Linked DNA regions of Homo sapiens. The protein of the gene in region 1 interacts with the protein of each later gene in a pairwise test. Each region holds a gene or a part of one and is shown on either strand. Other genes may lie near its edges.

Region 1 (7,677 bases):
TATAGGAGACTTGAGCATCCATGGATTTTACTATCCACAGGGGTCTGAGAACCAATTCACTCATGGATACTGAAGGACAACTGCCTAGTATTTTTTTTTTCCATTGCAGGGCATCTAGCATAATGTTAAGCATATAAACAATCCGATTTTATAATAGAGTTAAGATGTCTACAAAACTAATGAATGCAAACTCTAGATTCATAACAGAAAAAGGAGTAAGTTTTAAAAAAATATACACAAGGCTGGCCGGGCGTGGTGGCTCATGCCTGTAATTCCAGCACTCTGGGAGGCCAAGGCAGGCGGATCACATGAGGTTGGCAGTTCAAGACCAGCCTGACCAACATGGTGAAACCCTGTCTCTACTAAAAATACAAAATTAGCCGGGTGTGGTGGCACATGCCTGTAATCCCAGCTACTTGGGAGGCTGAGGCAGGAGAATCACTTGAACCCGGGAGGTGGAGGTTGCGGTGAGCTGAGATCACGCCGTTGCTCTCCAGCCTGGGCAATAAAAGGGAAACTCCGTCTCAAAAAAAAAAAAAAAAAAAATACACACAAGGCCAGGGACAGTGGCTCATGCCCGTAATCCCAGAACTTTGGGAGGCCGAGGCGGCCTGATCACTTGAGGCCAGGAGTTTGAGACCAGCCTGGCCACATCTATACTAAAAATACACACACACACAAAAGTTAGCTGGGCATCGTGGCATGCGCCTGTAATCCCAGCTACTCGGGAGGATGAGGCATGAGAATCACCTGAGCCTAGGAGGTAGAGGTTGCAGTGAACCGAGATCATGCCACTACACTCCAGCCTGGGTGACAGAGTGAGACAGAGTGAGATCCAATCAATTGATCAATCAATATATTTGAGACTGATGTTGAGATATCTTCTCACAAATGTACAGGTCACCTAAATACGAAGATCTCTGGTGTAAGAAAGCACAAAAATGCTATGCTAAGTAACAATTCTGAAGAGTTTTACAAAGTCATCTACTATCTCACTGGAGTCATTAAACAAATTTCAGAGATACAGAGGTATATGGTTATTTACACTTTTTATAATGTAGACTCAAAGAAGCTAACATAACTTTCAAACATCTCACAACTGTATTTTTACCATTTAAGTAAAACTCTACGAAACACAACAATAACAACAAGAAAAAGCCAATCACATATTTAGATTTCATAACTGATGCCAAGAAATTTCAGTCCTGGGCTGTAACAGCACCATTAATCCTCACCGAAAGAAAAAAAGTCTTTATTCAATTAGTTTTCCCCATAACTGTTCTTGAGTATCAATCTGTGAGGTGCTTTACTTACTTGTTTCTCTAAGACAGATGTCCTCTCCATTTCGGCATGCTTTATCATATTTCGCATGTATTCCAATTGTTTTTCTAATAGATTGCATTTATTTTCTGCAGCTAACAACTGAGATGTCAGTTCTAAAAAGAATACATAAGAAAAGCAGAAATCAACTCACCCATAAAATAGTTTTAACAAGCTGTTAACAGGAATTGGATCTATTGTGTATACAATAAAAACACCTTCCACAGACCTGGACGCCTTTTCAGATTACCTAAATCATTCTTTCTACGTGCTAGTCAAACTGGCCTTGCATTCAGTAAATAAATGCCATGTATGACAACAGCATTTGCTCCTCAAAATGCACCAGAATACAATGCAGTTTTGTAGTACTTGAAGATACCGCTACAAAACACTAATGTACTATTTCTTTTAGAATACTTAATACTGCACAACACTTATTTTGATAGAATTTTAATTTTCTTCATCAACAAACCTTGATTGTGCTTTGATTCCTCATTCTTTGAATTCTCCCTTTCTTGTATCTGTTCATCCAGTACTTTCTTATATTCAATTGTTTCTCTAGACAAGGTTTTCACACTTTCTTCTGCCTGAATCCTCTCAAGTTCCAAGCGTCGAATCTTATCTTGAAGATTCTTAAGAGCAGAAAATATGGCTGCCAAATACAAACACAAACGTGGATGCTGTAACAGCATATGCGGAGAAAGTATATTAAGAAAGAATAAACTCATCTAAATAAAAAATAAAATTGATGGATGAGTCCAGTGGAGGATCACTCTTTGGGAACAATAAAATGTTAATTATCTCATATTTGTTTTTTAAAAAATCAATTTAAAGACATTGAGTGGGCCGGGTGCGGTGGCTCACACCTGTAATCCCAGCACTTTGGGAGGCTGAGGTGGGTGGATCACCTGAGGTTAGGAGTTCGAGACCAGCCTAACACAGTGAAACCCTGTCACTACTAAAAATAAAAAAAATTAGGCAGGCATAGTGGCGGGCGCCTGTAATCCCAGCTACTCGGGAGGCTGAGGCAGGAGAATCGCTTGAACCCGGGTGGGGTGGGGAGTGTGGAGGGGTGGAGGTTGCAGTGAGCTGAGATCGCACCATTGCACTCCAGCCTGGGCGACAGTGAGATTCTGTCTCACAAAAAATAATAATAAATTAAAAAAAAGACATTGAGTGTTTGAAATGTGCTCAAGTAAAAACCCCATTACTATGGTAAAAAAATTTCAAAGACTTTTATAAAGTGGTAAAAAATTTAGCCAATCATACAAAGTTCACATAACAGTCCTAAAGTACATTACTGTCTTATTAATATATTACTTATTAATTAAAATTAGTAAATGTATTAGTAACTATTACTTATTAATACATTTTATTAATAGGAGCACATGTAGAAACCAACTATAGAGTTACAGTCAAGCACACAAAAATAATACTTTTAAAATCCGCATTTTAAGTACTTTCTAAAGTCCGCTTCAAGTTTGATTATAAAATTATGTTGACTGCAGTAAATGTAGAAGACTGAGAAAAAACACACTGAAAAATAACCAATAATCCTATTACCCAAAGATAATGACTGTCATTTGGTTATTTAAATTTTTTCCTATATGTGTAAAATAAATTGAGACAAAACAAATATGTAGGTTTTTTCACTTTAGCATTATTAAATAGTGAGAATTCCCTCAGGCAATCAGTCTTAAAAGATTTTCTAATGATCAATAATTAAAAACTAAAAAGTTACTGGGTCAAAGAAGAATCATAGCCATTCTAATGAGAAAAATATGCTACTCCTAGTTATTTTCCATTTCCATCAAAGTATAAATCTTTTCATATATGTTATTGGCTAATTTTCTCCCTTTCATGAATTTCCTTTGCCCATTTTTCTATGGGAAAAAGTTTTCTTCATTTTATTATCTGCCTTTAATTCTAGTTTTGATGTACAGATGTTTTGATTTTTCACAGAGGTATACCTAATTCTTTCCCATCACGTTTTTTTTTTTTTTAATTATACTTTAAGCTCTAGGGTACATGTGCTCAACGTGCAGGTTTGTTACATATGTATACATGTGCCATGTTGCTGTGCTGCACCCATTAACTCATCATTTACATTAGGTATATCTTCTAATGCTATCCCTCCCCCCTCCCCCCAACCCACGACAGGCCCCGGTGTGTGATGTTCCCCACCCTGTGTCCAAGTGTTCTCATTGTTCAATTCCCACCTATGAGTGAGAACATGTGGTGTCTGGTTTTCTGTCCTTGCAATAGTTTGTTCAGAATGATGGTTTCCAGCTTCATCCATGTCCCTACAAAGGACATGAACTCAATCTTTTTTACAGCTGCATAGTATTCCATGGTGTATATGTGCCACATTTTCTTAATCCAGTCTTGATGGACATTTAGGCTGGTTCCAAGTCTTTGCTATTGTGAACCGTGCCGCAATAAACATACATGTGTATGTGTCTTTATAGCAGCATGATTTATAATCCTTTGGGTATATGCCCAGTAATGGGATGGCTGGGTCAAATGGTATTTCTAGTTCTAGATACTTGAGGAATCGCCACAGTCTTCCACAATGGTTGAACTAGTTTACGATCCCACCAACAGTGTAAAAGTATTCCTATTTCTCCACATCCTCTCAAGCATCTGTTGTTTCCTGACTTTTTAATGATCACTTTAATGGCTCAGGATTGTCTTGGTAATGTGGGCTGTTTTTTTTGGTGCTGTATGAACTTTAAAGTAGTTTTTTCCAATTCTGTGACGAAAGTCAGTGGTAGCTTGATGGGGATGGCATTGAATCTATAAATTACCTTGGGCAGTATGGCTATTTCCACGATATTGATTCTTCCTATCCATGAGTATGGAATGTTCTTCCATTTGTTTGTATCCTCTTTTATTTCATTGAGCAGTGGTTTGTAGTTCTCCTTGAAGGGGTCCTTCACATCCCTTGTAAGTTGGATTCCTAGGGATTTTATTGTCTTTGAAGCAATTGTGAATGAGAGTTCACTCATGATTTGGCTGTGTGTCTGTTATTGGTGTATAAGAATGCTTGTGATTTTTGCACATTGATTTTGTATCCTGAGACTTTGCTGAAGTTGCTTATCAACTTGAGGAGATTTTGGGCTGAGACGATAGGGTTTTCTAAATATACAACCATGTAATCTGCAAACAGGGACAATTTGACTTCCTCTTTTCCTAACTGAATACCCTTTATTTCTTTCTCCTGCCTGATTGCCCTGGCCAGAAGTTCCAACACTATGTTCAATAGGAATGGTGAGAGACGGCATCCCTGTCTTGTGCCAGTTTTCAAAGGGAATGCTTCCAGTTCTTGCTCATTCAGTATGATATTGGCTGTGGGTTTGTCACAAATCACTCATATTGTTTTGAGATACGTCCCATCAATACCTAGTTTATTGAGAGTTTTTAGCATGAAGGGCTGCTGAATTTTGTTGAAGGCCTTTTCTGCATCTACTGAGATAATCATGTGGTTTCTGTCTTTGGTTCTGTTTATATGATGAATTACGTTTACTGATTTGTGTACGTTGAACCAGCCTTGCATCCCAGAGATGAAGCCAACTTGATCTTGGTGGATAAGCTTTTTGATGTGCTGCTGGATTCGGTTTGCCAGTATTTTATTGAGGATTTTTGCATCAATGATCATCAGGGATATCGGTGTAAAATTCTCTTTTTCTGTTGTGTCTCTGCCAGGCTTTGGTATCAGGATGATGCTGGCTTCATAAAATGAGTTTGGGAGGATTACCTCTTTTTCCATTGATTGGAATTGTTTCAGAAGGAATGGTACCAGCTCCTCTTTGTGCCTCTGGTAGAATTTGGCTGTGAATCCGTCTGGTCCTGGACTTTTTTTGGTTGGCAGGCTATTAATTATTGCCTCAATTTCAGAGCCTGCTATTGGTCTATTCAGGGATTCAACTTCTTCCTGGTTTTGTCTTGGGAGGGTGTATGTGTCCAGTAATTTACCCATTTCTTCTAGATTTTCTAGTTTATTTGCGTAGAGATGTTTATAGTATTCGCTGATGGTAGTCTGTATTTCTGTGGGATTGGTAGTGATATCTCCTTTATCATTTTTTATTGCATCTATTTGATTCTTCTCGCTTTACTTCTTTATTAGTCTTGCTAGTGGTCTATCAATTTTGATCTTTTCAAAAAACCAGCTCCTGGATTCACTGATTTTTTGAAGGGTTTTTTGTGTCTCTATCTCCTTCAGTTCTGCTCTGATCTTAGTTATTTCTTGCCTTCTGCTAGCTTTTGAATGTGTTTGCTCTTGCTTTTCTAGTTCTTTTAATTGTGATGTTAGGGTGTCAATTTTAGATCTTTCCTGCTTTCTCTTGTGGGCATTTAGTGCTATAAATTTCCCTCTACACACTGCTTTGAATGTGTCCCAAAGAATCTGGTATGTTGTGTCTTTGTTCTCGTTGGTTTCAAAGAACATCTTTATTTCTGCCTTCATTTCATTATTCACCCAGTAGTCATTCAGGAGCAGGTTGTTCACTTTCCATGTAGTTGAGTGGTTTTGAGTGAGTTTCTTAATCCTGAGTTCTAGTTTGATTGCACTGTGGTCTGAGAGACAGTCTGTTATAATTTGTTCTTTTACATTTGCTGAGGAGTGCTTTACTTCCAACTATGTGGTCAGTTTTGGAATAAGTGTGATGTGGTGCTGAGAAGAATGTATATTCTATTGATTTGGGGTGGAGAGTTCTGTAGATGTCTATTAGGTTCGCTCGGTGCAGAACCAAGTTCAATTCCTGGATATCCTTGTTAACTTTCTGTCTCGCTGATCTGTCTAATGTTGACAGTGGGGTGTTAAAGTCTCCCATTATTATTGTGTGGGAGTCTGAGTCTCTTTGCAGGTCTCTATGGACTTGCTTTATGAATCTGGGTGCTCCTGTATTGGGCGCATATATATTTAGGTTAGCTCTTCTTGTTGAATTGATCCCTTTACCATTATGTAATGGCCTTCTTTGTCTCTTTTGATCTAGTCCGTTTTATCAGAGACTAGGATTGCAACCCCTGCCTTTTTTTGTTTTCCATTTGCTTGGTAGATCTTCCTCCATCCTTTTATTTTGAGCCTATGTGTGCCCCAGCATGTGAGGTGGGTCTACTGAATACAGCACACTGATGGGTCTTGACTCTTGGTATCCAATTTGCCAGTCTGTGTCTTTTAATTGGAGCATTTAGCCTGTTTACATTTAAGGTTAATATTGTTATGTGTGAATTTGATCCTATCATTATGATGTTAGCTGGTTATTTTGCTCGTTAGTTGATGCAGTTTCTTCCTAGTCTCGATGGTCTTTACAATTTGGCATGTTTTTGCAGTGGCTGGTACCGGTTGTTCCTTTCCATGTTTAGTTGTTCCTTCAGGAGATCTTGTAAGGCAGGCCTGGTGGTAACAAAATCTCTCAGCATTTGCTTGTCTGTAAAGGATTTTATTTCTCCTTCACTTACAAAGCTTAGTTTGGCTGGATATGAAATTCTGGGTTGAAAATTCTTTTCTTTAAGAATGTTGAATATTGGCCCCCACTCTCTTCTGGCTTGTAGTTTCTGCCGAGAGATCTGCTGTTAGTCTGATGGGCTTCCCTTTGCAGGTAACCTGACCTTTCTCTCTGGCTGCCCTTAATATTTTTTCCTTCATTTTAACTTTGGTGAATCTGACAATTATGTGTCTTGGAGTTGCTCTCCTTGAGGAGTATCTTTGTGGCATTATCTGTATTTCCTGAATTTGAATGTTGGCCTGCCTTCCTAGATTGGGGAAGTTGTCCTGGATAATATCCTGAAGAGTGTTTTCCAACTTGGTTCCATTCTCCCCGTCACTTTCAGGTACACCAATCAGAGGCAGACTTGGTCTTTTCTCATAGTCCCATATTTCTTGGAGGCTTTGTTCATTTCTTTTTACTCTTTTTTCTCTAAACTTCTCTTCTCGCTTCATTTCATTCATTTGATCTTCAATCACAGATACCCTTTCTTCCACTTGATTGAATCGGCTACTGAGTCTTGTGCATGCGTCATGTAGTTCTCATGGCATGGTTTTCAGCTCCATCAGGTCATTTAAGGTCTTCTCTACGCTGTTTATTCTAGTTAGCCATTCGTCTAATCTTTTTTCAAGGTTTTTAGCTTCTTTGCAATGGGTTCAAATATCTTCCTTTAGCTCAGAGAAGTTTGTTATCACCGATCGTTTGAAGCCTTCTTCTCTCAACTCGTCAAAGTCATTCTCCATCAAGCTTTGTTCTGTTGCTGGCAAGGAGCTGTGTTCCTTTGGAGGAGAAGAGGTGCTCTGATTTTTGGAATTTTCAGCTTTTCTGCTTTGGTTTCTCCACATCTTTGTCGTTTTATCTACCTTTGGTC
Region 2 (8,301 bases), about 83 Mb from region 1:
AGTCAAGCAGACCTCAGATCCTACAGAGACGTATAGGTCCTGCTGAGAACTTGAACTGGATTCTGAAGATAATGGACTCATCAAACATATGCAGTAGAGAGTATGGGAGAGAGGCAGGATTTGAGGCAAGGAAATTGGTTTGAAGGAAAGTGCAAGGTCCAGGTTAAAAATAAATGAGGGCCTAAGCTAAGGCAATGCATTCATTCATTCATTCATTTATTCACTCTACAAATACTTATTGTCTACTGTGTGAGAGTTGATGTCTCAGGTGCTGGAGGTTAAGTAGGAAAAAAAGCATGCAAAACCCTCTGCCCTCACAGAACTTCAACATCCTGTGGGGAAAGGAAGTAGATGGTGATGAAAAACGGTGATCCTCAAGTTTCAGGTCTTGCTTGGTGAATGATGGGACCATTTTCTGAAATAGATATTACAAGAGGCAGAACAGGCTTTCGGAGAAATAATGGGTTCAACTTCATCTGTTTGACAAAGGTTTGGATGTTTGGCAGATATTCAAGTGGAGCTACCCAGCAAGCTGCTGGATATGCATATTTGGATAATTCTGGAATAGATGTGGAAGCCATGGCATATCAATTGTATAAAATCCCTGGGAGTGAATGAGATAACCCTAGGAGGATGTATGGAAGCAAGAGTCACAACTCAAATGATTACAGGGCTCAGGTGAGTTATGAATGTATGTGAATTGGGTCATATGTGAAATAGAGTGTTGTTTTTGTGGCTAAACAGAGAGTATATTCTGTCTAAGGCAGCAAGATTTGGCTGGTGGACCACCAGTTTGCAATTCCTACACTTTTGGAACTTCTTTCTATGCCTCTTGTCTCATTTTTCAAATAAATATTTTTATGGCAGGCAGCTAGCTGTTCATGAAAACCCATTTCCTCTTCTGAGATACTCATTGCAGTTCCTAGCCTCCTTGCCATTACTAGTGGCCGTGACTGGGTTCTAGCCAACGGGATATGAGCTCAATTTTCAGCCAATGCCTTAAAGAAGAGGGTGTGCCCCTCCATACTCTCTCCTCTTCCTCTGGCTTATATACATGATGACGAAGTCTAGAGGATTTTGGAGTCACGAGATGGAAGGAACCAGGAATAAGGCCACCTCCCAACCAGGACATCTTCTTTTGACTATTATCTGAGTGAAAAATAAATCTTTGTGATGTTTGAGCCATTATACAAGTTTGGCCCTGTTTGTTACTACAGCCTAGCCTAACTTAAGAAATCCACTGCTAAACCACACTAATCCTGGCTGTGACATCTCTAAGGTCAGGGACCATGTCTGTCCAGTTCATTCATGGATCCTCAACACATAGCCCAGGACATAGCATGCAGTAGGTACTTAATACAATTTCTTGACAACACTAGCTGTGTTTTATTGAGCATGTTTTATGTGCCAGTCACTGCACTAGATCTTTTATATATTGTGCATTATTTCATTTCATGTAATGACAACTCTATAAAGCAGGTTCCAATATTATACTTTTTTCCTCGTAAGAAGATTGAGGGTTGGAAAGCTTATAGCTGGTATTTGAAATGAGGCAGGGTGACTCCAAAACACACACTCTGAAACACCAGTACATGACCACATGCATACTCATTTCAGCATTTTAACTCAAGTATTTTCTCCCACCAAGAATGCCCTCAACCCCTCCTCCCCAATTATTGAAGCCTGCCTTCTGCATCCTTCCTAGCACCCATACAATCATTCTACCCTTTAATTAGTCCAGCAGGAATTTCATATATATCATTACTACAACAGGGATTCCATGTATTTGTCTGCTTCTAGAAATAAGTTATCTTGAGGGTAGCACAATATCTTAGACATTATTCATCTGAGTGTTCCTTAAAACATACGGGAAGATGGAGAACCTGCCATGTGCCAGGCACCCTAGGCACTGAGGACTAAACTGCAAATAGGACAGAGACAATCTTCTCTTTTGAAAAGCTCTATTCTTGTGGGAGTAAACAGACATAAAAAACGCATCACAGCACAATGTAACCTCCACATTAATAGACGCAGAAGAAGAGCGGGGAACCAGTTCTTTCTGGAGGAGGAAAGAAAGGACTCCCAGAGCAGGTGACATTTACCTGAGCTTCTGAAGAGTGAGTAGAAGTTCTCCAGTTGTTTAAGAGGAATCTCAATTAGTGGGAAAAGCATGTACAAAAGTGTGGATACATCAAGATGCAGGAGTTCTTCTGGATGGATGAGGTATTGGATTGCTAAAATGTAGGATTCCTTCATGGATTCATTAATTTATTCAACAGATACTGAGTAAACCTAGAATGTGTCAGGGATTGCACTAAATGTAAAGGATTCAAAAGTGAGCAAAACAGACATGATCCCTACCCTTGTGGAGCTTAGAATCCAGCAGGGATGGCAGCTGACTACAAAGCTCTAGCAATCCTGTGTGAGAGGAAAGGAAGAAGGGATAGCCCACATGTAAGTGAGAAGCTGGAGAAGTGGGCTGGTCCAGATTGCAAGAGACCTTTGACACCATTCTAGGGAGAAGGAAATCTCTCGTCAATCTATCACCAAGTCCTGCCTCTCCTGCCTCCTTGATAGCTCTCAATTGTGTCCAGTCTTCTCACCGCCACTATTCTCAGTATAGGTCATCATCTCTTCCTTGAATGAACGAGATAGTCTTCTAAAAGGCTTTCTTGCCTGTCATCCCCCACCCCCACCCATTGTCCTCAATGCAAACAGAGGGATCTTTAAAAAATCAAAATCTGTTCATGTTATGCCCTATGGTAGGCAGAATTCTAAGACAGCCCCATAATCTCCATCTTCCTGGGGGCTACTTTGGTGATTATATTACAGTACACAGCAAAAGGGGTTTTTCAGATATAGTTAAGGTTACTAATCAGTCAACCTTAAGACAGAGAAATTATCCAGGTAGGTTTGACTAATCAAGCACTTTAAAAGCAGAGTTTTCTCTAGCTAGTGGCAGAAGAGGATGGTAGATTGATTAGAAGCAAAGGAGGACTGGATGGATTTGACATGTGGTTGCTGACTTTAAAGTTGCAGGGAGGGGGGTGGATATCCTACAGAAAGGATCTGAGAGAGTTCTGTAGGAGCTGAGAGTGACCCTGGAGGACAGCCAACAAAAGAATGGGGACCTCAGACCTACAACTGAGAGGAACCAGATCATGCAAACAACCTGAATGGATTTGGAATTGGGTATTCCCCCAGAGCCTTCAGACAGGAACTTGAACCAGCCTATACCTTGCCTTTTGCCTCGGACATCCTGAGCAAAGTATGCAGCAGCCATGCCAAGTTGGACTTGTGATCTACAGAACAGTGAAGTAATAGATGGGTGTTGTTTTAAGTCACTAAGTTTGTGATAATTTGTTACATAACAATAGAAAACTAATATACCTCCGACCTTTCCAACCCCCCAATAAAACTACTGGGGATTTACCAGGCCCAGGCAGTTAATCGCTACACCAGTTCCATTAGGGAGGTATTTTTATTATCACCATTTCACAGACCAGGAAACTGAAGCTCAGAGAGATTAATACTTTTCCTAAGGTTATAGAGCTAGTACGTGGTGCTGAAATTTTTACTTGGCTGTTCTGACTCCAGATTTGCACTCTATGGGTTCTCATTGTCTTTAAGATAAATCCAAATACATAAGCATGGAATTAAAGGCCCTTCCTGATCCCATTCCTGTTCAATTATCCAACTTCAGTTTTAGGCACTCCTCTCAAATTCCTGACAGCCCCCATAACTAACATGCTCTTGATTCCTGACTGCACTACAATCCCTTCTAGAATGCTGCTTGTCCCTCCCCTCCATCTGCTTTCCTTTTGGCAGACTCTAATGGTCCTTTGGGTCTTGTCTAACACACCTCTTCTAGGGAAAGCCTTCCTTGCCCCTCCAAGATGGGTTGGATGCCACTCCAGGGTCCCCCAGAACCTCATGCTCTCCCTTATCAGAGGACACAGGACATTGTGTTGGGAATGTTTACTTGGCTGTGCCCTCCCACTAGACTGTGAACTCTTTGCAAGCCAGAACTGGCGATTAGTTCATTGTCAAATCCCTAGCGTAGGACCTGGAGCAGAGAGGTACTCAATAAATATTTGCTGAGTGAATCATTGAATGAACAAAAGTGCTTTAGCCAAGAGGCAATGGGGAGCCATCTAAGGTCTTGAAGAAAGGGAGTGAGCTTATTATTACACCTGTGCTCACAAGGACAAGTTCAGGGCAAACCTTGCACTCAGTGGACCATCCTCATCAGCAGTTAAGGATGAAACAAGTTCATTTGCATTGTGGCCTTGGGTTTCTTGCACTGTAAAGCTTGGCTGTTATCTCTTCTGGACCACATCTGAATATTAGAAAATGCCAGAAGCCTTCACAGTTTCCCCTTATGGAGGTGGAAAGCATAAAAATAGCTTGTGACTTGGGTCTGGGCCCTGAACTCCCACTAGAATGAGGAGCCCCTCTCCCAAAAAGGCTGTGGGAAGCTGAGGTGAAGGTGACGTGGAGACCCACTTACGTGACACTACAGGGAACGGGCAGCCGCCTCTGAAGGTCTGTCCCCCTCCAGCCCATACCGTTCCATGCCTGCACTTGCTCCCGGAGCACATTGCCGAATCTTGTTCTCCTTAGATATGCAAATATTGCTTCCTGTCGAGAAGGACTGGGAGGCCTTCCGCTTTAGAGGCAGCGCTTATAGCGCTAGCTGGTCGTGGAATGCGATTACAGCGTCTCCATTGGAGACCGCTGAGTGCCTCGGTTTCCCTGTCTGTGCAAAGTGCACTCCCCAGACGCCGCTGCCTCGAGGGACCAGGAAATGCGTCTGGGGGCGCCAGGAAAGATGAGAAGATAAAGTCACGATGCGTCCAGCTAGCTATAGACACAAGCAGAGGAGCCAGTAGGCCAAAGGAGACGCACAGCTGATCCGTGCCGAGGCGCGGGCTCCACTCCCTGAAGTGGAGGGACCCTTGAATCTTTCCTTGCGTAGGCGCGCGGCAGAGCAGCGATTTGGCGAAAAGGGCCGAGACTCAGGATGCCTGCAATGCGAGCGAGGGGCGGACAGGGCGCACGGGGCGCGGCAAGGCTGCGAGGGGCGGGCCTGGGCCCTGAGCCTCCTGCACTTCCAGCCACAGCTCTGGGCCTTGGGGGCGGGAAGGGGTGGAGCCACGTGGGGAGGAGCAAAACCCGGAGGTCCCGGGCACCTTGGGCAGAGCCAGAGCGGCGGGAGCCGGTCCTGGGCGCGTTGCCCCGGGAGCGCCCGTCGTCCGGGCAGAGCGCAGCCGCAACCGCGACCACAGCCGCAGTCGCTTTCCAGCCTGCCTTCGGTGCGCAGCGGGGGAACAGGGCTAGTGCAGCCGCCGGAGGGGGGCACGGGCTCCTCTCCCATCCCAGAGCTACTGGGCTGCCCTTGCTGTCCTCGCCGCCCCAGCAGACCCCGGCCGGACCTGCCACCTGCGCCCTGGTTGCGCCATGGATCCTTCGGAAAAGAAGATATCGGTGTGGATCTGCCAGGAAGAGAAGCTGGTGTCCGGCCTCTCCCGCCGCACCACTTGCTCCGACGTTGTGCGAGTGCTTTTGGAGGACGGCTGCCGGCGGCGACGGAGACAGCGGCGGAGCCGGCGGCTGGGGTCGGCCGGCGACCCGCATGGCCCGGGAGAGCTGCCCGAACCCCCGAACGAGGACGACGAGGACGACGACGAGGCGCTGCCGCAGGGCATGCTGTGCGGGCCCCCGCAGTGCTATTGCATCGTGGAGAAGTGGCGCGGCTTTGAGCGCATCCTCCCCAACAAGACGCGCATCTTGCGCCTCTGGGCTGCCTGGGGCGAAGAGCAAGAGAATGTGCGCTTCGTGCTAGTGCGCAGCGAGGCATCGCTGCCTAACGCCGGCCCCCGCAGCGCCGAGGCGCGCGTAGTGCTGAGCCGAGAGCGCCCCTGTCCGGCCCGCGGGGCCCCGGCGCGGCCCAGCCTGGCCATGACCCAGGAGAAACAGCGGCGAGTGGTGCGCAAGGCCTTTCGCAAACTGGCCAAGCTCAACCGGCGGCGCCAGCAGCAGACACCGTCGTCCTGTTCGTCCACTTCGTCGTCCACTGCCTCGTCCTGCTCTTCGTCGCCGCGGACCCACGAGAGCGCGTCGGTGGAGCGCATGGAGACGCTGGTGCATCTGGTGCTTTCCCAGGACCACACAATTCGCCAGCAGGTGCAGCGGCTCCACGAGCTGGACCGCGAGATCGATCACTACGAGGCCAAGGTGCACCTGGACCGCATGCGGCGTCACGGGGTCAACTACGTGCAGGACACTTACTTGGTTGGGGCAGGCATCGAGCTCGACGGGTCCAGACCGGGAGAGGAGCCAGAAGAGGTGGCGGCGGAGGCGGAGGAGGCGGCGGCGGCGCCCCCTCTAGCCGGCGAGGCGCAGGCGGCGGCGCTGGAGGAGCTGGCCCGGCGCTGCGACGACTTGCTGCGGCTTCAGGAGCAACGGGTTCAGCAGGAGGAGTTGCTGGAGCGCCTTTCAGCCGAGATTCAGGAGGAACTCAACCAGAGGTGGATGCGACGGCGCCAGGAGGAGCTGGCGGCGCGGGAGGAGCCCCTGGAGCCCGACGGTGGCCCCGACGGCGAGCTGCTGCTGGAGCAGGAACGGGTCAGGACGCAGCTCAGTACCAGCCTTTACATTGGGCTGCGGCTCAACACGGACCTAGAGGCCGTCAAGTCGGACTTGGATTACAGCCAGCAGCAATGGGACAGCAAGAAGCGCGAGCTACAGGGCCTTCTGCAAACTTTGCACACTTTGGAGCTGACGGTGGCACCGGATGGGGCTCCTGGCTCTGGCAGTCCCTCGCGGGAACCTGGGCCTCAAGCCTGCGCCGACATGTGGGTGGACCAGGCCCGTGGACTGGCCAAGAGCGGTCCTGGCAACGACGAAGACTCGGATACGGGACTGAGCTCTATGCATAGCCAAGACTCGGACTCCTTGCCCATGTGCGAATCCCTTGTGTAGGGGTGGGGGGCGGGGGGCGGGGGGCGGGAACAGGGGGATTCTTTTTTCTTGCAGAATGCAGTGGGCCAGCCGGCTCGCGGACTTGAAACCAGGCTGTTGCGAGCCCAGAGCTCCGGCTGGGCAGCAGCGCTCTGCGCAGCCTCGCGCTCATCTGGCTCCGGGGTGAGTGCAGAGCAGGGTGAGGGTAGAAGAAGTAGGATCCTCAATACAAGCTCATTAAAGAGAGGGAAGGAGGGAGGAGGCAAGAACCCCCTATACTGGAAAACAAACAACCCAAGGAAATTGACGTGGTCCGAGCCCATTTTCAAAGTAAGGAAGTATAATGGAGATTTCGCTACTCTTCTGTATGGGAAGGACTGATGGCAGCTAGAACTTTAGTTTGTGGTATGAAGTGCTTTAAAAGAAACACTTGGATGAAAAGGAAATTCCTTGAATGTTAATTGTGACTGTAAACGTGTTAAAACTAGCCAAAGAGGACGCACTGGTGTCGGTCTCTGCCTTTCTTACCTCTTTGATAAAACCCATAGGCACCAAAATCCTGGCTGTTTACATTTCTGCAGATTTGGGAATTACCCATCTGCTAAATCATTTGTCTTTTATTTTCTTTCAAAGGCTAAACTGTATCGAAGTCTAACCCTGTATTTCCTCCTAGTAAACACAATAGATGTTAAAAGGGAATTCTTTTCCCAAAATAACCTTTTATTATTACAAAAGCCAAACATAATCATTTGAGATATAAAATCCTGGCAAACATAATCGTGGTTAAAATTTAATCTGGGCCCTTTGGGATCTGTCCCTTCAAAGGCAGGTGAGTTGCCCTTTAATTCGTATTGCCACTTCATTGACTCAATCACTGTTATTTCAGAAAAAAATAAAAGGAAGTAGCAGAATTCAAGTTACGCAAAACAAAACTTGCTGTCTAACAAGCACTCTTTGAAAGCAAAGATGTTTTAGTGTTCAGCTTTTAAATTGAGCTATGTGATTAAAACCAACCATGACCTTAACGGATTTTACCCAAACTCGTCTAACTTCAGTATGTTTTGTCAGAGATTAATCAGTTACTTGTTCAAACTTAAATTGAGATAGTGTAAATATCAGGGTTTCCTAGATAAGGACAGAAAAGAAAAAAATAAAACAATCTCATAGTACTCCTTGGGTGAACAATGTGATTAACGATGGCACGTAGTCATGGAAAAAAAGATAAAAAGTGAGTTAAGAACTTGAATTACTCTTGTCTGGCACACGCCTATGCACATGCCAGGAGATGCAAGTGCAACACCATCTCAGTAGCTGGCGACAGAGCTGGTGGGGACTCCA
Region 3 (7,570 bases), on another chromosome or scaffold:
ATGGCCAGGACGATTATCAGGAGGCCTGTCTTGGGCATGACCTGATTGTCGCCCAGCAGGCCATCGTAGGAGAGGCCCAGGCAGGTGACAAGGATGTACAAGTGGCTGATGGGGACCACTTCCACCACCTCGATGCCAAAGACCAGCTGCAAGTACTCGGAGGCTTTGCTGAAGATCACGGGAAAGAAGTCCTGGCAATTTCTGAGGACACTCTCCAGCATTTCTGCCTTTGTGACCGGCTCCCTGGCTCGATACTTGAGGAGCAGAAAATGAACCAACTCAACCATCTTCCTACTGATTGCTGCTTGGAACTCGGACTCCAGGTCGGGAAACATTCTTGGCCCCTCCTCTTCTTGGTTGCTGGAGCCCTCATCGGATTGTCTCCAAAGAGTGTAGTTGATGGTAGTCGAGAAGCTGGAGGCTCCCTGAGGACTGTGGGGAGGACTCGGTGAGTCGGCAGCAGGCACCTCCCCCAGGGTAACTTCCACTAGAGTAGAAGAGGAAGAAGCGGTCTGCTGCTCCTCAGTAGCAGGAGCCTGCGCACCCACCAGGCCCAGGGCCTCTCCTCGGGCCTCAAGGCCTTCTTCAGGCTTGCAGTGCTGACTCCTCTGCTCAAGAGGCATGATGACTCTGGTCAGGGCAGCAGGCAGGAGTGCGGGCAGGAGCTGGGCAATGAAGACCCACAGGCCTGGGGAGAGAAGGAGCGTGTGTGAGGCCTTAGGTGAGAACTGAACTGAACCTTGGAGGCTCTGACAAAGGCTTACTTACAGATCTTCTCCTTCAATGCTCCTCCAGTGCCTCGGGTCCTACTTGTCAGCCTGTCCCCCTCAGAACCTGAAGGAGGAAGTGGGAGGGCACCTCAGGGTACAGCCGGCCAGCACATGCTCAGGCTGCAGGACTGAGAATAGGGAGGGTGAGGCCAGGCCCTCTGGAGTCCCATTTGTTCTGGGCGGGTGGGGCCCTTGGTGTGCATTCCAGGCAAACCTTCAGTGTTGGCACTGTCTGCGTCCCCTCTGCTCTGTGACCTGAGGACACTGACTCAGACCAAGGCCTCACTGCCTGGTTCCTGGAGCTCCTGATTCCTGGGAGAGGAATGCACGGGCCTTCAGTGTGCAGACTGCAAGCACAGCCACGGATTCCCAGAAGTCTCAGCAGGGTTGGCCAGACTCCGTGAGGTCCCCACTCTACTTGGGTGGAGGGTCCCCTCTGTGCTCACTCAGGGCCCTCACCTTTCTCCTTGTAGGGCCTAATCCCACCCTTTTGCTGGCTTGAGAATCTCTCATGTCAAGAACTCACATCCCTGATATGGTACAGAAGGAGATGAGGGGACCCACATCTGGCCATACGTGACCAGGTCCTCCCGCGAAGGACAACGAGAGATGTCCAAATTCATTGGAGTCCAGGTGTCCTGGGTGACGAGTCCGCTTGGTCCTCACGTCCACTCCTGGCAGGGCCTGAGACCCTCCCTCTACTGACCTGACTCCAGCCCCTTCAGACCAAGGCCTCCCCTTCCCTGACATCAAAGATCCCAGGATAATGGAGGGACTTCAGCTGACAGCCCTGCCCAGGGTCTCTGAAGTAACCGCAGGGGCAGGGCAGATTTCTATGGGGCCCCCTGTCTGCATTCTGGCCCAGGAGTACCCTCAATCCTACCTCAGGCTCTCCACCTGGATGCTTGGCAGATCCTAGAACCACTGCATCTGTCGACCAGATGGGGGCCCCTGTGTTGACCTGAGTCACCTTCTGAAAACAAGGTCATCAACTCCCTGAGATCTGGAAACAGAAGTGAGGAGGGGCCACATCCTGTTACCCCCACGTGCGTTGTCCAGGGCTGACCCCTTTGGTTCTAGGGTGAACGTTATGATGGCCTCCTGTGGGTTACTCATCTTTACTCCTGCCAGGGACTGCCCTTTCTCAACCCCCAACCCCCTGAAATGAGCAGACAGCTCCTCTTTACACCAACACCTTATCTCCCTGAGGGTTCCCCAACCTCCTGCCTGTGGTACAAATGAGATTGTCACTTAGGGCCATCCCTGATCAGGTTCCCCCAGAGCTAAGAACAAGGGACGGCCAGACTCTGTGGCATCCCTTCTTTCTGGGCCGGGGGTATCCCCAGTCCTCATGAAGGGGGCACACCTTGGGTCCGGCAGATCCTGGGATTCCTCCCTCTGCTGACCTGAAGTCCCAGCCCTCAGACCACAGCCCTCAACTCTCTGTCACCCTGAAGGTGCAATGAGCACGGGGCACATTCGGCCACTGTGCCCAGGATCCCCCAGCCCAAGGTTGCCACTGATCTGGACTCCAAGGTCCCCTCAGTCCTCCCTCTTCTTCCTCCCCTTGACTCCTCGCAGGGCTGGGCCCCAACCCCCTGCTGAAGTGGGTCTGCATCCCTAGGATTCCCGCGGCTGAATGAAAAGGTGGCTCAGTTTGAGACAGGGGTACAGTGGGCCCCCTGTCCTGGCATGCTGGGTCCCCTAAGGACTCCACTGTCTTCCAGGAGGGCCTGGGCCCTTCCTCTGCATCCCAAAGGCCATACTCACGAGACCCAACCCCTTCCCTCCCTTAGCCGTACATGTGAACGTCAGGATCCGCGTGCTTGGCCGCCATTCCCGGAGCTTCCGTGGGTTGATTGCAGGGGCAAAGCCCGGATTCTGCCAGGATGGTGGTGGGGGAGGAGATGGGAATGGGGTTTGGGGGTGGGGTTGGTGTTTGAGGGATGGGGGTGGGGTTGGTGTTGGGGGATGGGATTGGTAGTGAGGGTAGGGGGTGGGTTGCCCTCAGTCCCCTCTTGGGGTCCTGACCTTGATTCCTGGCTGAGTCTGGGCCCTGAGCACTTCTAACCAGCCCTGCCCTGGTCACACAAAGCTCTTACGCCAGAGTTCCCTGCGGTTAAAGCGGCGGGGGGTGGCGGGGTGAGGTGGTGGCGACTCAGCCTGAGAAGTCTTCCCCTGCAGGGTGGTCCAGGCCCGGCAGCAGAGGCAGCGCTGGATTATTGGGGGCCCTCTGTCTGGGGTGAGGCCCGCCTCAGTCCTCCCTCGGCGTCTTACCTTGCCTCCTCACGGAGCCTGCGCCTGCTTCCCTCCGCCGACGTCAGGCCGTTGCTCAGGGCGAGAATCTCGCTGTCCTCTGACCTCCAATGCGCAAGTCAGTGGCGTCACATCCGGGCCCGTGACTTCCCTGGGTTCACGGCAAGGGTGGAACCGGATTCTGCCCGGATGGGGATCTGGATGGGGGGGTGGGGGTAAGCATGAAGATGGTGTTGGTGTAGGGGTAGGGATTGGGACGGGGATCCTGAGGCTGTAGATCCTGGTGGGGTCGGGGGAGTTGGGGGTGGGAGGGGCCTTTGGTCATCCCTCAAGGTCCTGACTTGGATGCCAGACTGAGCCTGGACCGCCATCCTCTGCCGATTGTGTTTGCTCCCCTCAGACCAAGTCTCTGACTCTGAGTCGGCCCGAAGTGGCATTGGGGGGAGGGGTGTGCTCGGGGTGAGATCATTGCCAGTGTGTACCAGGGCTGACAAGAGGGGCTGAGCTGGATTCTGTGGTCCCACTATGTGGGTGAGGGTGGATCCTCAGTCCTCACTCAGGAGGGTCCTCTTCCTCACTCCTGGCTGTTTGATGAAGGAATGGGTGGGAGATGCTCTGTTTCTGTCACCTCTGAGCATCTGCGCATCTGCGCATCTGCACCCCTTGTAGAGAATGGCTGCGGGTGCCAGGCCAGGTGCTCCCTGCAGGGCAGGAGCTCCCGCGATGATAGTGACCTCTGGGAGAAGACGCACACCTTCCCACGGGGGCTCCTCCCCAGCCAGAGCTACACTTGGCAAACCTTTGGTCCTAAATGATTTATTCTCTGAATTGAAGAAATACGGTTTACATATCTTCTAAGTATATATGTAGGTAGCAATATATATATTTATTTCTATGAACTAACACCTACCCTTAGTATGCATGATTCACTCTGATATCCTAGTCTACTTCCATTCCAGTCTTTGTGTTCTGTTGAAAGAATTTTTTTAAAAAACATAATTCCTCTCCCACTCTGTTGGTTTCAGGTTGTTATTAGCAGAACTCTGGAGCCATGCTGCCTTAACAAACCCAATTTTCCTGGTGGACACTGCTATTACCTAGGGCTCTTGGCATCGTGTTTTCAGGGGCTGCCTCAGATTGTGCAATGAAGTGAAGTGGAAAATTCAAAACTTTTATTCTACCCATTCTTTCATCTGCCGTCTAGGCAGGCTACAAACCTCCCCAACATCTCTGCCGCTAACCCCCTCCAACAGACACTGCAAGTGTCACACACAAGTACCAGCTCAACACAGTCTCCAGTCTCACTCTGGGCTTTCCCTGTTTTGTTGTGTAGATTTTCTTGCTGATACTGGTGTTTTACTTTCTGTTTCCATTCTATAAATTTACAGGGTTGATTTGGGAAGCAGAGCACAGCAGCCCAAATTTGCTTGTAATGTCGGCGGCTACAGGTAAGGCACTAAATTGTAAATAATTTAAGCTGAGTTTACATTTTTACACTGTTGTGTTCCCCGTGAATGAATATGTTATACTCCTCTATGGATTTCAAGCTCTTTTTTCCTGAATATGTCAGTATACTTCGGTAGTTGCCTCTATAAACAACTTATACATTTTTATTAGGCTTCTATTCAGGTAATTCTTGGATTTTGTTGCTATTGCAAGTGGCATATTGTCTATCAATTGTTGTAGTTAGTTATTGCTTTCGTGAGGTGAAGATTTTGATTTTGCTGTAGTAATCTGTTGCACACCTCGTTCTGAAGGCCGATGCACTTGAATATTCCGCATACCTTTTCCTTTGAATTTTCAAGATCGATAATGGTATTATCACTAAACACTACATGTTTTTCCAATGTTCATACCACTCACTCATTTCGGTACTTACAGCTCTTTGTGTCTCAATCCTGATTTCAAATGTAGAGATAATAGGCTACATCTACTTCTCGTTCCTGACTTGAATGATAATTCTTCGAACATTTGACATTTAAGTATGTTTGCTGTTGATTTTAGGAAATGGAAGTTCTCTTTCAGTATAGGTTGCCTAAATATTTTCTTTTTTACCATGAATTCATATTAAATTTATTTAAAAAGCTTTTTCTGTACCCGTTGGCAGGATCAAATTTTTTTCTCTTCCATTTTGTATGTAAGGAATCACAATGAAACAGATGTTTTTTCTAATGTTAAATCATATTTTATTTCCTTGGGCAGAGCCTGTTTATTCGTTTAATGTACTACTAATTTATGTAGGATATTTACTGCTGTGTAAGAGAGCTTACTTGATGTGTTCTTTTTCCATCAGGGGAGGTATGTGGTCCTCATCTGGTTTTTAAATCCAGGAGGGCTAGCCTGGGAGAATGAACTGAACAATTGTCAGTCTTTTGTATGTTCTGGAAGAGTTGATATAAGGCGGTGGTTAGTTTTCCCTGATCATTTGGTAAAATTGGCCTCCAAAGCTGTCTAACCTGGAATGTTTGAGGGTGGCTTGAGCTTTGAATATTGTACAGTTTCTGTTGTATAGTTAAAGTTTTCTTTTCCTCTTTGGATCAGTTTGGTTACTGATTTATTTTATTTCTACAAAGTGGTCAGTTTCATTTAGGATTTCACTTTTAATGGCATATTTATGATAAAAAAGTTTTATTAGGGAAAGCCTTCACACATACAGAATAACAGGAACGAATATAATGAACCCAGGATACTTGATACCGAGCATGAACATCTTTAAATACACAGCAAATCTGGTTCCAGTTAAACACTCGCCTACCTGCATATGAGCTGCTGGAATAACGTGGAGTAAATCTAAGGCATTAGACCATTTCATCTCTAAATAACTTAATATGCATTTTTAAAAGATAAGGATTTTTTTAAAACAAAAAGCCGATAGTTTTCATATCTAAAAAATTAAATAAATGATTATCAAATGTTCAACTATGTTACACACTTATCTGGCCAACTTAAACTTTATAAAATATATATTTCTTTGATGGAGTACAAAATGTGTTAACTTTTCCCCCCACTTGCTTCATTGTGGTGGTTTCATATATCTATTATACAACTAGGTGTGTGTGTGTGTGTGTGTGTGTGTGGAACATTCTACCTGCCGTCCCGTGATTCTCCAACCTCTTAAGTTACTTTTAAACTTTACATACATTAAGCTTCACTCTTTGTGCTGTAAAGATCTATGGGTTTTGACAAATGCCTCGTGCCATTGTCTTAGTCCGTTTGGGCTTCCATAACAAAAATAGTGATAGACTGGGTGGCTTATAGACAACGCAACTTTATTTCTCACATTCTGGAGGTTGGGAAGTCCAAGATCAAGGTGCTGGCAGATTTCATGTCTGGTGGAGTCCTGCTCCCTAGTTCATAGACAGCTGCCTTTTCCCTAGATCCTCACATGCAAGAAGGGATAAGGGATCTCCGTGGAGTCTGTTTTATAAAAACACTAATCCCATTCATGAGGACTCTGCTCTCATGATCTAGTCATTCTCCAAATACCCCACCTTCTGCCTAATACCATCACCTTGGTAATTCAGCAGATGAATTTTGTGGCAACACAAATATTCAGACCAAAGCAAGCACGGAACCACCATTGCAGTATTATGCATACCAGTTTCACTGCCCTGATAAATTCCCTTGTGCTTGTCGGATAAACCCCATGGCCACCACTGATAGGTTTTTCATCTTTATAATTTTGCATTTTCCAGAATGTCATATAAATAGAATCTTATACTATGTAGCCTTTTTAGACTGGTTTCTTTCACTTAGCATAATGAACTGAAGAGTCATGTATAACTTTGTGTGGCTTGGAACTTATTCCTTTTCATTGAGGAGTAGTATCAATGTCTGGTTATATATATATATATATATGTATATATATATATATCCATTCACCAAATGAAATACATTTTGGATGCTTCTATTTTTGGTGATTATGAAATAAGCTATTGTATACATTCATATACAAATTTTTATGTAGACATAAGTTTTCAAATCAATTGGGTAAATTGATTGAGTATGGCTGCTGAATCTTGTGCTAAGTCTATTTTCATTTTTTTAAGAAAACGCCAAACTGCCTTCCAAAGTGGCTGTGCCATTTTGCATTTCTACCAGCAATGAAGGAGAGTTTCCGTTGCTCCACATCTTCGCTGGCAATTGTTCTTGGTCTTGTATTCTTTGTTTTGGTTTTCTATGGATTTTGGACATTCTGATAGGTGTGCAGTGGTATCCCATTTTAGTACACAATTATCTAATGCCAAAGGGTGCTCAGTACTTTTATTATGCTTATTTGCCATGTGTATATCTTCTTTTGTGTAGTGTGTGTTCAGATCTTTGACTATTTTCATTTTTTCTATCATTGAGCTTTAAGAATTCGCATATATTGTAGAGACAAGTTCTTTATCACATATGTGTACCGCAGATGTTTTCTGCTAGTCTGTGGCTTCTGTTTTCATTCTCTTAACATTGTCCTTTGAAGAGCATAAGATTTTTATTTTAATAAAATCAACTTGGCAAATTTTTCTTTCCTTGATCATGCTTTTGGTGTTGAATTTAAA

The links. Proteins that work in one complex are often made in the same cells at the same time.
Region 2: the proteins of CEP57 (region 1) and RASSF10 interact in binary tests that used the Homo sapiens proteins (3 or more experiments, as listed by UniProt).
Region 3: the proteins of CEP57 (region 1) and MAGEA2 interact in binary tests that used the Homo sapiens proteins (3 or more experiments, as listed by UniProt).

What each region holds. Positions count from the first base shown.
Region 1 is NC_000011.10:95,807,227-95,814,903, reverse strand, and holds part of CEP57 (centrosomal protein of 57 kDa), read right to left. Parts: intron 1,973-7,677; coding exon 1,793-1,972; intron 1,437-1,792; coding exon 1,315-1,436; intron 1-1,314. UniProt on the Homo sapiens protein: Centrosomal protein which may be required for microtubule attachment to centrosomes. May act by forming ring-like structures around microtubules. Mediates nuclear translocation and mitogenic activity of the internalized growth factor FGF2, but that of FGF1.
Region 2 is NC_000011.10:13,004,117-13,012,417, forward strand, and holds RASSF10 (ras association domain-containing protein 10), read left to right. Parts: upstream 1-5,199; 5' UTR 5,200-5,460; coding exon 5,461-6,984; 3' UTR 6,985-8,003; downstream 8,004-8,301.
Region 3 is NC_000023.11:152,750,741-152,758,310, forward strand, and holds the start of MAGEA2 (melanoma-associated antigen 2), read right to left. Parts: upstream 3,103-7,570; 5' UTR 3,048-3,102; exon of another isoform or gene 2,802-3,047; intron 2,652-2,801; 5' UTR 2,573-2,651; intron 1,774-2,572; 5' UTR 1,654-1,773; intron 1,083-1,653; exon of another isoform or gene 985-1,082; intron 835-984; 5' UTR 769-834; intron 689-768; 5' UTR 624-688; coding exon 1-623. UniProt on the Homo sapiens protein: Reduces p53/TP53 transactivation function through recruitment of HDAC3 to p53/TP53 transcription sites. Also represses p73/TP73 activity. Proposed to enhance ubiquitin ligase activity of RING-type zinc finger-containing E3 ubiquitin-protein ligases.